3 linked regions of the Homo sapiens genome follow. The protein of the gene in region 3 purifies or fractionates together with the protein of the main gene of each other region. This does not show direct contact. Each region holds a gene or a part of one and is shown on either strand. Other genes may lie near its edges.

Region 1 (4,612 bases), on a different chromosome or scaffold from region 3:
TTTTTTTTTTGAGACAGAGTCTCGCTCTTTTGCCCAGGCTGGAGTGCCGTGGTGTGATCTCGGCTCACTGCAAGCTCTGCTTCCTGGGTTCACACCATCCTCCTGCCTCAGCCTCCCTAGTAGCTGGGACTACAGGCGCCTGCCACCACGCCCAGCCAATTTTATTTTTGTATTTTTAGTAGAGATGGGGTTTCACAGTGTTAGCCAGGATGGTCTAGATCACCTGACCTCATGATCCACCCACCTTGGCCTCCCAAAGTGCTAGGATTATAGGCGTGAGCCACCACTCCCGGCCATTTTTTCCTTCTTTTTTGTTGTGATGGTCTTGGACTTTTTCAAATTTTGTGAATTGGGGAGGGGATAAAAGGTGTCATAATAGGCCTTCTAATTCCTGCACCTGTTCTTTTTGCTTATTCTAGTCTGTGTATTCTTCTCATCTTCTTGTTCCTCTTCATTTTCTTTTGCTGCTGCTTCTATTTCATGTTTCTATTCTTGTTTCTCCTCCTCTTTTTGTTTTCTTTATGCCAAGCAATGGCCTTAACAAACAACAAGCCAAAATTGTCACTGTGTTGTATTTTTAAAATAACTGGTCCTTTACTATGTTTTAGGGATGAGGAAAAAAATCAGTTGTATAATTAGTTACTTGAATAGCTATGCTTTCACGATTGTGTTAAACCACTTATGCCTAGTGTTCCATTATTGGAATGGTAAGCATGAGGGAGTTAATTACATCCTACTGCTCAAGGTCATTAGAAGGTTTGATTTTTCACTCGTGCAAAAATTCAAAAAATTGCAGCCTCTGGCATAAATGGGCTAATGCGTTGTAAGTAGTTATTCAGAGAATCAAAAAATGAAGCATCACATAAAAATATTGGTGGCAAACAGCCATTTCATCTCTCTCACATATTTGGAGCTATGCAGGAGTCACGGGGTAAGTTCTAATTTATGAGATTATTAAGTGAACTGTATTGCCTTCATTTTCTCTGCCACCATTTCCTTTGTTTTCTTTCTTTTTTTTTTTTTTTTTTTTTGAGATGGAGTTTTGCTCTTGTTGCCCAGGCTGGAGTGCAATGGGGCGATCTCGGCTCACTGCAACCTCCGCTTCCTGGGTTCAAGCAAGTCTCCTGCCTCAGCCTCCTGAGTAACTGGGATTGCAGGCATGTGCCACCATGCCCAGCTAACTTTGTGTTTTTAATAGAGATGGGTTTTCTCTATGTTGGTCAGGCTGGTCTTGAACTCCCGACTTCAAGTGATCCACCTGTCTCAGCTTCCCAAAGTGCTGGGATTGGAGGTGTGAGCCACCACGCCTGGCTCTCTGCCACCATTTTCAAGAGTATTGTCATCTGCCTGAGCAAACCTGGTTCATCACCACCTCTTTGCAAGAGAAAAAGGAAGTCGGGAGAATTGTGTGTAATTTTTTTTTTTTTTGAGATGAAGTCTCGCTCTTGTCCCCCAGGCTGTAGTACGATGGCCCGATCTTGGCTCACTGCAACCCCTGCCTCCTGGGTGAAAGCAGTTCTCCTGCCTTGGCCCCCTGAGTAGCTGGGATTATAGGTGCCTGCCACCACGCCCGGCTACTTTTTGTATTTTTAGTAGAGATGGGGTTTCACCCTGTTGGCCAGGCTGGCCTAGAACACCTGACCTCAGGTGATCCACCCACCTCGGTCAGCTGTGTGTATTTTAAGGCAAAGATTCACAACCAAAAACAAGGCTTTATTAACTTTTGTATCTAAGAACCTGCAGTGTCGAGCCCTCTTTTATTCCTAGTATTACTACTTTAGGTGTGAACTTTTTATCTTTATTTTACTGATTCCTCTAGAAGTTTATGCATTTTCTTGACTGCTTTAAAGACAATCTATATTGTATCATTTTTCAAGCCCGTAGAAATGTGTAAGGCCTATAATTTGAACACTTGTTATTTTTAAGGTTATGAGCATGTAATATACCGTTGATACATGGAAGAATATGTATAAATACCACTAGATAGGTTATATTGAAGAGATAATATCTAAATTTTTGTCCAGAGTTGATGGGGTGCAGTTTTGTAGGTGTGTTTCTCAATACATTGTGTCCATGTTTTAAAGCATATAGAAATTTGAATACTGTTTAACCTCATATAGTCCTTGTTTATAGGTTTAATATTTCTAAAGACTAAAGACGTCACAGCTCCCTTTAAGATTCAGTAATACTAATAAAATTTGAGATATACAGGGTTAGAGTCCAACAAATTCAAAGGAAAATTGTTGAATTATATAGCCGTAGAGCAGGAATGAAACCCAGGTTCTAAGTTCCAAGGGGGCCATGAGCTACCATACAGGTGCATCAGTGACTGGGCATAGAGGTGGCAAAATTATTTAAGAGAGTGAGCTGTGGATCCTAATTATGTGAACATGAATTTTTGAACTGCATGGTGCCTCAGTTTATCCATCATTACAGTGGGGACAGTAGTAAGTTTTTCTTTTTCTGCTCAGTTGTCTGAATTATTACCCCAGTCTCTCTTGTTGCCACTCTTGATGCCCACATGAGAGGATCTAAGGTAATTTCTGACAACCTGGGACTCCTTAAGGAAAAACAGAAGGTTCCACAAACCCCATTTTAGGAGAAACCTCTGTTTTCCTCATGGAACCCCAAGAACTTTAAGCAGACAGGTCCCTCTCAAAAATCTAAGGCTCTGCTCTGTTTTGCCTTGCGTTGTCTGACCTTTTTGGTTTGGATGGGCATCAGAAATTAGTAGGGGAGAGAGATCTAAAGAAAATTGTGGATATGAAGATGTATTTATTGTAAGAAATGTTATGAAGGAAAGAAATGTTATATGAGAGAGGATCTTATATGGCAAATTGTTGTCCTAAAGTAGAATGACTAATTACAAAAGAGGGAAATACAGGACAGGTCAGATAAATTTAATCATGTTGTAGATAGTCTGTGGAAGTTGTGTTATGATTCATAAAGTGGGAAAGAAAAACTGAACAACTGCTAGATCTTTTCTTGTCTAGAAGTGTTGTGTATGTGATGTATATATAATGGCTCGGCTTAAAAGAAAATGAAAGCTCTTAAATATTTTGTAAGAAAAATAGAAGCTCTAATGCCTTTTATTTCATGTGACTTCAGTAATCTTTGGGAAATAAAGATGGTGTTAAAGTCAGTGGTAAAATAAAAATATCTTCAAAATTTATCCATTTGGTCTAACTTAAGTCAGAGGTTAAGTTTTAGAAGTGCTTTAATGTCATAAATTGATGCTTTGACTTTGGAAAATAGTTTTGTTTACCTGGTTTGGAGCCGTTAGATTTCTAGGTAAGGTCTCCGGACAGGTGGAGTTAGCCATGTCTCCTAGCTATGCTGGAAGGAGTCAGATTTTATCTGCAGTTCTGTCTTGTATCCTAGACTCTGCACCTGGTATGCAATTAAAACTTACTGCTGCTGCTAATCTCTGGGTTCCATTTAAAATCCTTCCATCACATGAATACTATCCCCTGTACTAAATTTTTCCACAATTAAATACTTAGAATCATTTTTGCTGACTTGACCCAACCATTAGTGATATATTTTAAAAATGCTTATAATGTGTCACAATATATTTAGCAAATGTAGGGAATGACATTTTTACTTTCTTCAGCATTTACATAGCATTTATGTAGCAATGCTATCTCAAGTATTTTTAATCATTTAAATGTTAGATAATAGATATGTTTTTTATTCCTTTTTTCTATGTAAATAAATATAATTATGAGATATTTAGTAAATAGTATCAATTGCATATGTCACTTACAGAATATACAATGAAATTAGGATTATTTTTATACACTACATCATATTTACTTGTTGGCTTTCCAATAACTTAGAAATAGTATTCTGGATTAACTGTGTGACTCATGAGAGAGGGAGTTTGTGCAATTATAGTCTTTACAAATTTTTACTAGATTTTTCAAGACTTATGCTAGAACTTTGAGAACAAGGTAATAAATAAGCATATCTGTTAATATCACCTTTGGTCAACTCTTGGCTAGACCCAATGATAATGTAGGAATTAACATAATTTTTCTACTAAAGGTGTTGGATTTGTTCCGAGAGACCACAGTTCAAAGTCATTGACAAAGAAAGTTTAAAAATTGTTAGATTAAAACCTTTTAGTGTGTTTGAAATTGTTTTGTAGAAAAATATCCTGGTTTGCATTGATAGGTTTTTTTTTAAATAACAACTAGACCAAGAGAAAGGGAGAGTAGTGATAAATGTCCATGTTTTCGAGTTGAAAAGTAACAATCAGTGTATTACAACAGATGGATTTGATGTCAAATTACAAATGCTGAGAACGTTATATGTAACTGACTTGCCAGAGTAATTATACAAGGCAAAGAAAGGAAAGGCATCTAAATAGGAAGGGAAGGGGTGAGATTGTCTGTGTTTTAGACTCCACAAAAAACCCATTACAGCTGATAAACACTATATTCAATAAAGTTGAGAGTTACAAAATTAACATTGGCTTCTATACACCAATGACAAACTGTTATCTGAAAAATAAGGTAATTCCATTTATAATAGCAACAAAACAAATATATAAGTAAATCAAAGAGCAAGGAGTAATTTTAATGAAGGATGTGAACGATTTGTATACTGA
Region 2 (4,306 bases), on a different chromosome or scaffold from region 3:
GTGACCTTGGAAAGGAGAGGCCTGGCCATGCTGGGGCACCAAGGTGTGGGTGGAGCTGCAGGCTGGCCATGCACCCCAGGCTCCAGGCTCGGACAGGCCTGGGCCAGCACCCACCTGCTGTGTGACCTAAGCTGGTAGCTCAGTCTCTCTGGGTCTTGGCTTGTCTTCGTCTGCCTCAGGATCACATTTGAATGGCACCTGGCACTGGCCACACTTGGGTTCCATCCTGGCTTTGCCACTTCCCAGCTGTGTGACCGAAGCAGGTTACTTCACTGCTTGGTGTCACAGTTTCCCCATTTGCAAAGAGGGATAATAATATGTGCAACCTTGTTACTCAGCAGTTACTGAGAGGACAGGTTAAGAACAGGGCCTGGCCCACACCTGATGCTATCTAAGTATTTCCCCGTGTTATGGTATCTGCTCGATGAACGGCCACTTGTAGGGCCACTAGGCCTATGCATTGTTGAGTGGGAGGGCCCGTGTCCCATCTCCCCCATGGCTCCAGGCCTCTCTGAGGAGAGCTGAAGGAGGTGGACTGACTAGTCCCCGCACCTCCCCGCCACTGGCTTTCCGGGAGACAGGAGGCAGGGTCCTCAGTGCCATACTACTGAGGCTCAGCGGCCAAGCTCTGGCTGGAGCCACGGTGAGGAAAGGATTAGAAACCCAGATCCCTTGAGCCCTGCCAAGTCCTCACTCCCTGGGAGGTGCTGACAGGAGGCTTGAGGCCAGGCAGGAGCAGCCCATCTGGCCCATCTTCTGCCACCACCCCCAACCCCACCGCACCGCACCCTTCCCCTCCACGCTTGCCATGTTTTCCTCAGCAGGACAGATATTTAATGGTGACTTTGTGGACCGAGGCTCCTTCTCTGTAGAAGTGATCCTCACCCTTTTCGGCTTCAAGCTCCTGTACCCAGATCACTTTCACCTCCTTCGAGGTGAGCTGGGAAGTGACAAGGTTTGGGTTCATTGTGGGGTCCTGAGTGGGGCACTCACTCTGCAAGGATAATAGTTGCAGCTGTATTTATTTTGTGGACTCGGAGATCATGCACAGGGCGACCTTTTAAGATTGAGTATGTAGTGCACTGCACAAAAGCATCACACCAAAGGACGCGTTTACATCATAGATAGTGTAGAAATGGATGTTTACTCTGACCATTTTTCAGCAGATGGCAAACAAGGGTGTGAGGATGGGCCCCTTATTCTAATTTGCACAAGGGCATGAAACAGGCTCCTGGGTGGCCCTAAATCTGGCACTAAAGCTGAGTGACTGAGTGAACAGACCAGGGCTCGAGGGTGGGAGTAAGGAGACTGTTGACGAGGCAGTTGTGCCCCCTCAGATTCAGGCTTGGTGTCAGATTTGGGTTCTCTTGATTGAAGTAGAGCCCGGAGCTGAGTGTGCTGGTTCACACCTGTAATCCCAGCACTTTGGAAGGCCCAGGTAGGAGGATCACTTCAGCCCAGGAGTTTGAGACCAGCCTGGGCAACACAGTGAGACTTTGTCTCCAGTAAACATTTTTTAAAAAGGCCAGGCGCAGTGGCTCATGCCTGTAATCCCAGCATTTTGGGAGGCCAAGGCAGGTGGATCATCTGAGGTCAAGAGTTCGAAACCAGCCTGTCCAATGTGGTGAAACCCCGTCTCTACTAAAAATACAAAAATTAGCCGGGCATGGTGGTACACGCCTGTAATCCCAGCTGCCTGGGAGGCTGAGGCAGGAGAATCGCTTGAACCCAGGAGGCACATGTTGCAATGAGCCGAGATTGCGCCACTGCACTCCAGCCTAGTCGATAGAGTGAGACTCAGTCTAAAAAAAAAAAAAAAAGCCAGGCATGGTGGCACCGTGCACCCGTAGTCCCAGCTTCTTGGGTGGCCAAAGTGGAAGGATTGCTTGAGCCCAGGAGTGTAAGGCTGCAGTGAGCCATGATCACACCGCTGCACTCCAGCGTGGGCAACAGAGCAAGACCCTGTCTCTTTGAAAAAAAAAAAAAAAGTAAGAAACTTGGAAGTAGAGCCCAGAGTATTTGCTGGAGGAACAGACACAGGTGTGAGACAAAGAGGGAACGAAAGGGGCCCTCTAGGGTTTTGGCCGGAGTATCTGGAGGGCTATGGCTGCCAGTGACGAAGACGGGAACATGTAGAGCAGGGTGTGGCCAGGAGCTGAGGAGCTCCCCTTTGGATGTGGCTGAGACTCAGGAGACATGGGATGTGGGTGGGGTTCCAAGGGGTGTTGAAAATGTAGGTTTCTTGGTGTCCAGATGAGATTAGACAAGAGGAGCTCACTGGGATGTGAGGGCCACACAGGGGAGGCCCTGCCCATGGCGGGGCCGGGGTGAGTTGGGAGGTGAGTGATAGGCTGGGGCGAAGCCTGCATGCCCGTGTCCCTGGGCTCACAGGGTTCACGCAGCAGTGTCCAGCACAGGGTCAAAGCTCAGGAAGCCCGACTGTGGGCCTCGTTGCAGGAGGCAACAAGTGCTCAGGCCGAGAAGTCAGACAAGCAGAGTCTGAGCAGATGCGAGACTGGGCAGCCTTCTCCTTGCCCCCAAGCTCTGGAAGGGAAGAAGGAGGCCGGGTGCTTGTGTCTGAGACAGAAGGATGGAGCTCAGGGTGGGGTGGGCTGGGGCACATGTTCTGTAGATGGGCCTACTTTTTGGTTTTGAGACGGTCTTGCTTTGCTCTGTTGCCCAGGCTGGAGTGCAGTAGCATGAGCATAGCTCACTGCAGCCTCTGCTTCGTGGGCTCAAGTGATCCTCTGGCCTCAGCCTCCCAAGTAGCTGGCACTATAGGCACGCACCACCATGCCCAGCTAATTTTTAAAATTGTTTTATAGAGAGGTCTCAGTATATTGCCCAGGCTGGTCTCAAATTGCTGGGCTCAAGCAGTTCTGCCTTGGCTTCCCAAAGTGCTGGAATTATAGGCGTGAGCCATGGTGCTTAGCCATGGACCTACTTTTTGTCAAGATTCCCCCCTTGGTACCTCCAGTCTGGAAGGCACCGCAGTGGCAAGTGCGAGGCCCATGGGGGCAAGGGACGCATGCACAGTTCTGGGCCTTGAGGGTGCCAGGCTGGAGGACACTGATGTACCTGGAGGCTGAGCTTTCTCTTCTGTCCCCGTGTTGGCCAGGCAACCACGAGACAGACAACATGAACCAGATCTACGGTTTCGAGGGTGAGGTGAAGGCCAAGTACACAGCCCAGATGTACGAGCTCTTTAGCGAGGTGTTCGAGTGGCTCCCGTTGGCCCAGTGCATCAACGGCAAAGTGCTGGTGAGGACGGCGCGAGCCCTGAGTGTGGGTTCCCCACCCAGCCACACCTGGGCAGATGTGCTGGTGAAGGAAGTTGGGGCCTGTGGGTGGGTGGCACCTTCCCTCACAGCGGCATCCCCCATCTCCCCAGATCATGCACGGAGGCCTGTTCAGTGAAGACGGTGTCACCCTGGATGACATCCGGAAAATTGAGCGGAATCGACAACCCCCAGATTCAGGTGAGCAGCGCGGGGCCAGGTGTCTCCAGCAGAAAGGGGCAGCCTGGGCTGAGCTCTCCCCTGCAACCCAGCCCTGCCTCGGAGGATGGGCTTTGTGCCCTTGGCAAGAAACAGCGGGTCTGAGCCTCAGTTTCCTCACCTGCGACTTGGGCCAGTGCACCTCCTTCATGGGGCTGTGATGGCAAGCACGGTCGTGACCATGGTGCGGGGTGAAGGCACGGTGACCGCCGAGCACACCTGTCCTTATTTATTTGTGAGTTCAGCTGTGGAACCCTGGAAGGAGGGGAGGTCTTGGGGCTCCTGTGCTAGTGACGGGCACACTTCAGAGAGTTCACCCACAGGTGCACACGCACGTGCACACTGTGAGTGCTGCAGAGGACATGGATTGGGTGGGCTGGTGCTGGGTGCTCAGGAAGGCCTCTCCAGGGAGGCGAGGTTTGAGCTGACACTGCGGGAAGCAGAGGCATCTGCCGTGCACAGAGCCTGGCGAGCATATTCCAGGCTTGAGGAGGGGTCCTAAGGCAGGGAGAAGTTGGCGAGTGGGCAGGGCTGTGCTTTGAGGGCTGACATTGGACATGGGGTTCACTGGGCCCAAATCCTATGGCGCTTTACAGGCCCCAGTGAGGAACTTTGTTCCTAGGGCAGTGCGGAGCCACCAAAGGCTTTGAGTGGGAGAGGGGCCTGATCTGAATAGTGACATTGAAAGCTCTATCTGGCTTCGGGGCCACAGGGGATTGAATGGGGTCTGGAGGGCAGATCAGCAGAGAGGGTGGGGGTGGCTCAGAATCACAGTCACCTGTCCTGAATGTCCATGTCCATGCTGGATG
Region 3 (5,105 bases):
ACACACACATCTATCCAGTTCACAAAGCCACAAATCCAGGAATCATCATCCTTCACGTCTTTCTCACTCCCATATCAAATTCATCAGCAGGTCTTGGGAGTTCTACCTCCAAATTATAACCTCTTTTTATCATGTCCACTGCCCACCACCTTAGACCAACTCATGTTAATCTTTTCTCTAGAAAGCTCTAGTGACTTTCTATCCTGTGGCTACTCTTGCCCAGCTACAGCCCACTCTCCAGTCTCCCTACAGCAACAACACCAGTAAACTCTTGACAACCAGGATGCCCCTAGAGCAACTGCATCTGCCAGTGGTCACCATGACCTCAGAGTCAGTCGTCCTTACTGCTCTTTCTACAGCATTTAGCACAGCTGCCCATAGCTTCTTCTCTGGCTTCCGTGACACCTAGTGGTTTTCTTACCTTTCTGGCCTTTCCTTTTGGTTACTGGAATATTGGCAAAACCTCTAGGCACAAGTGATAAGGTGAGTGTCAACACTTGATTCATTCTCCTTGGTTTAAAGTGAAGTCACTCAACTGGGTGTCAGTCCTGCCCTCTAAAATTCCATCTGAAAGGGCCCATCACTGAGGTAGATCGGAAAAACTTAATGCTGATGGACAAAAATTGAAATTGCCCAGGGACCATGCTAAAATGGGGAGGGTTTATTCACATATGCTATCTGAGCACTTGGACGGTGTCTACAAATGTCCACGGGATTCACCTGTCCAGGCATCCTTTATCTAATGATACTACAAGTCACAGCTTTAACTTGGGTCCTTAAAATAGATTGGCTAGGAAGACCAATCTTGTGTTATAAAATGAAGTGTATACAGTACACTCAACGTATATCTTAAACATAATTAACAACAGATATAAAGTGAGGATCTTGTTTTAATTACCAATCCCTCCTTACCTCGGTACTGGAGAAAATCAATGGATAGTTTATTCTGTACAAAGTTCAGGAGCTTGGCCCACCTTTAGCAATATTTTCTCTCTCTTATAAAATGAGAAGAATTATTTTCTCATAAAGAAATGGTCATATCTTGGCCAGGTGCGGTGGCTCACGCCTGTAATCCCAGCACTTTGGGAGGCCGAGGTGGGTGGATCATGAGTTGAGGAGATCAAGACCATCCTGGCCAACATGGTGAAACCCTGTCTCCACTAAAATAAAAAAAATTAGCTGGGTGTGGTGGCACGCACCTGTAGTCCCAGCTACTCAGGGGGCTGAGGCAGGGGAATCATTTGAATTTGGGAGGTGGAGCTTGCAGTGAGCCAAGATCATGCCACTGCGCTCCAGCCTGGGTGACAGAGTAAGACTCCGTCTCAGAAAAAAAAAAAAAAAGAAATGGTCACATCTTATGGGTTGTGGAAAGATCCTAGTCTCACTTTTTCCTGTATCTGGCAATACAGCAGGTTTTTGTTCTCTTTTGGTTCTCTTTTCACTTTGATTTTGATTAGGGACACTGTGTTTGTTGGGGTAAAAGGCTATGCATGTGAGGGGAGCTGGGATGAAGTCGCAATAAGCATGACCACATTCAGCTTAGAACCTTCTTTATTAAGGAAGGTCTTTCAGGCACTTTCATTAACAGGCACATATAAGCTTAGCAAGAGCACCTTTCAAAGTCACAGTTCCAATGGTTTTTGTAAGGTCAACCAGAGGCAGAGAACACAATCATGGTGGCTTACCGTCAAAATCATGACAAGTTGTCAACCTAATGCCTTCTGTCAAACATAACCACCACCCACTCTGCTTCTGTCCTGTGAGGAATGACGGGAAGTAGGGAGTCAAGACTTGATATTAATGTAGATCGCATGTGACACTTGCGTGGCCAGCAGACAAGGCCCCCCACCCATGCCCAGGCTTGGACAAAATGGTGGCTATGTTTTCTGTGCCAAACCTCCTCATCTCTGCCATGTCTAGCCTAGACCTTGAAGTGTCTGATCCTCCCCGGACATGGAGGAACCACTGGCCCAGCAGCAGCACCAACACTAGGCTGCACCACTGTGCGTGTTTTCCGGGGGTGCGACACTTCTCCTGAGGGTGACCCCAATGAGACCACACCCATGAAGGTGTGGCGCAGGTCGTAGTGCGCCCGGTGCAACTGGTGTCCTGGAGGAGCTGCCAGTAACACATGGGAGTCTGGGGGTGAGCCAGCTGGAGGGAGTCCAGGTGCGCCAAGTGGAGGGGACGGAGGTGCATCTGGGTCCACCACGGGTGTGGGGACTGCTTCATTGGCACCTTCTGGTTGGGGCTGTGAGCTCACGGGCTGGAAAAAGGACCATTTCCTTCAGTTAGTTTGCTTCCTCCTCCCAGGCAAGACAACCCACAGGCCCAGGTGGCACTGGCACCCAATTTCCTCACATTATACATTTTTATTTGCAAAGAGTCTAGCAAGAAAGGACCTACCCAAGTACAAGGGATTGTCATCAAGGTTACAAGGAGGGGTGACTGGCCTATGTTGGCCCCGGCCTCACTAGGATTGTCTTTGTGATGGTGGACTTACACGCATATGTCCAATGAGTAAAAGCACCCCACCTATGGCTCACCCTTGCCCAGCAGTGCCACCCTCTTTGTCATCTGAAGCTGCAGCCACTGGGAGCTAACAGGTAGATCTGGCCACCTGGTCTCTGCAACTCAGAAAACCACTCCCACCTCCCACAAATAAAAAGGTGGCTTTGTCAACTACACAGTAAGATGGTTCTTCCCTGTAGTCACTAGTTCGTGGGAGGGAAAGGCATAGCTAAAATATCCTTCCATTTGTTGATGATTCCGCATACCCCAGTGTTATTTCATACTGTGAGATTCAGAAGCACAGGAGAGCAAATGTCCTGTCATCACTACTGCACTGCATAAATGTGAAGGGGTCATTGTATTCTGAAGGTGTAGGCAAGAATATTCACGGAGCTGTTACCTGTGTTTGGAACACCATGCAGGTCACTGCAACCTCTGCCCCACCAAGCTTCTCACTGAGTGTTGCCTTACAAAAGCCATATTGCTGCCCACAGAGAAAGAGGATTTATTTTAACTAATTTCAAAAATGGATCCCCCCCAATTTCATTGACGCGCCAACCTTAAATTAGTTTGAAAAACCATTTTTCTTAAAGTTATAGTTTCTGCTTGTGGGAGGTATATGATTCTATATATAACATGGAAATACAGAAATACTTTGAGAGTGAGAGAGATTACCCATAATCCCTTTCTGGTGGTGGCCTAGAAAGAAGGACTGTTAACATTGATGCATTTCTTTCTTATTTTAAAATACTATTAAATATGATTTAAAAATTGAGATCATTGTGACTATACGATGTTGTATCCTGTGTGTTTTCACTTGCCATAATAGCATTTTCTCATATCATTCATTATTCCTTGAAAACACAATTTTTAGTGTCTGCACAATTTTCTATTTACTGATGTGCATGGATTATTCAATGACACCTTCCTGTTGGACATACAGATCTCTCTTTTTTGGTCTCTTTATATCCATAATAAATCATTTTTATAGATATATTCTGTCAAATGTCACTGATGAATTCTTTTTCTTTTTCTTTTTTTCTTGAGACAGAGTCTCGTTCTGTTGCCCAGGCTGGAGTGCAGTGGCACGATCTTAGTTTACTGCAACATCTGCCTCCTGGGTTCACACCATTCTCCTGCCTCAGCCTCCCGAGTAGCTGGGACTACAGGCGCTCACCACCAAGCCTGGCTAATTTTTTTGTATTTTTAGTAGAGACGGGGTTTCACCATGTTAGCCAGGATGGTCTCGATCTCCTGACCTCCCGATCCACCCGTCTTGGCCTCCCAAAGTGCTGGAATTACAGGCATGAGCCATCATGCCTGGCCACTGATGACTTCTTTAGACTAAAATCCTAGAAGTGTACATTATTGGCTCAAGGACTTGAAAGCTTTTGTATCAGAGTTATATGTCTAGAAAATGTGCACTTCACATTCCCAGTGGGTGGGCGTGACTTGGCTTCATTAGCAAATAGCCTCTCTCTTTCTCCTAACTTCATGTGCTTCCAGTGGGTGAGATGATTTGATGACAGCTCTTAAAGGGATGAGGTGACACCCTAAAAGAAGGCTTGCCGTGATCCACAGGGAGAGGGGATTTGCACTGTTATTCTCTGTCTGCAGCCCCAAGATACAAACTATCCAAGGATGTTCTGTTCCACAAACAGCTCTGTCCGAGTGGTAACACCCCAAGGTCCCGGCCCACTCACCTTTTCTGCCAGCAGGTTACACTTGGCTGCCTCTGTGGCCTCTTTAGCAACACAGTCAGTGCCAGACACTGTAAACTCCACATAGGTAGAAGGTGGGAGGGGCTGAGAAGAGTACATGAAAATGCTCTTGAGGAAAGATGACTTACAATGAAAAGGGCAGAGAAGGAGAGCGGGAAGTAGCCTCCTTCGGGGAGCACCATTCATGCAGACCATGCGTCGGCCCAGAAGACATGTCCCTCAATGGCTTACATAGGGCAGTTGCTATGGGGTTGTGTTCTCAAGTGCTTGTGCTTTAGAGGTAGGGGTTGTGTCTTCCTTGTAGGAGGGGCAAGTATCCATCACCGGTCCTTCAGGGTGGAGGTGAGTTTGCAGATAGGAAACCGGAATCAGAAGGCCAGCATTAGACTGATAGGAGTGGGAACCCTGCCTCCCCCCAGCCCTCACTCTTGGGCTGCACTTGATACCCAAGGTTCAGGTTATTCCAAAATAGGGTGGGAAAGTGAAGAGATTAATACCTCTTCCACCTGTTTCATAGAGCAGGCTCAAATGAAAAGATTTAGATGAAAGTATGGAAGATATCACTTGAGCTTTTCTTTTTTAAAGTAGTTGGAGCATATGGACACAATAAAATATCTGTTATTTGGTGTAGTCTGGGGTGGGGATGTTCTGAGAATCACATATTCTGATTAATAGAATTGCCGTCTATACTAGCGTATTTCCAAGTATGGCCATGGCTGATATCCAGAATACATTTTCTTAAACATTTGAATTCTGTTGAATTCCAATGTGCTAAACCACCCACAGTACAATGAGATGTTTTCTCCAGTGACTCGAAAGGCATTTTAAGATCTTGCCATTATAAGCTTGTCAGCACAAGTGAGTATTAATTAC

Evidence for each region. Proteins that work in one complex are often made in the same cells at the same time.
Region 1: the proteins of AHSG (region 3) and POTEF purify together in Homo sapiens (affinity purification with mass spectrometry; 3 studies listed by BioGRID and IntAct, with this or other methods). This does not show direct contact.
Region 2: the proteins of AHSG (region 3) and PPP5C fractionate together in Homo sapiens (co-fractionation; one large-scale study listed by BioGRID). This does not show direct contact.

Annotation. Positions count from the first base shown.
Region 1 is NC_000002.12:130,122,723-130,127,334, reverse strand, and holds part of POTEF (POTE ankyrin domain family member F), read left to right. Parts: intron 1-4,612.
Region 2 is NC_000019.10:46,383,975-46,388,280, forward strand, and holds part of PPP5C (serine/threonine-protein phosphatase 5), read left to right. Parts: intron 1-829; coding exon 830-935; intron 936-3,118; coding exon 3,119-3,261; intron 3,262-3,391; coding exon 3,392-3,479; intron 3,480-4,306. UniProt on the Homo sapiens protein: Serine/threonine-protein phosphatase that dephosphorylates a myriad of proteins involved in different signaling pathways including the kinases CSNK1E, ASK1/MAP3K5, PRKDC and RAF1, the nuclear receptors NR3C1, PPARG, ESR1 and ESR2, SMAD proteins and TAU/MAPT.
Region 3 is NC_000003.12:186,617,747-186,622,851, reverse strand, and holds the end of AHSG (alpha-2-HS-glycoprotein isoform 2 preproprotein), read right to left. Parts: intron 4,317-5,105; coding exon 4,215-4,316; intron 2,996-4,214; coding exon 2,912-2,995; intron 2,267-2,911; coding exon 1,922-2,266; 3' UTR 1,534-1,921; downstream 1-1,533. UniProt on the Homo sapiens protein: Promotes endocytosis, possesses opsonic properties and influences the mineral phase of bone. Shows affinity for calcium and barium ions.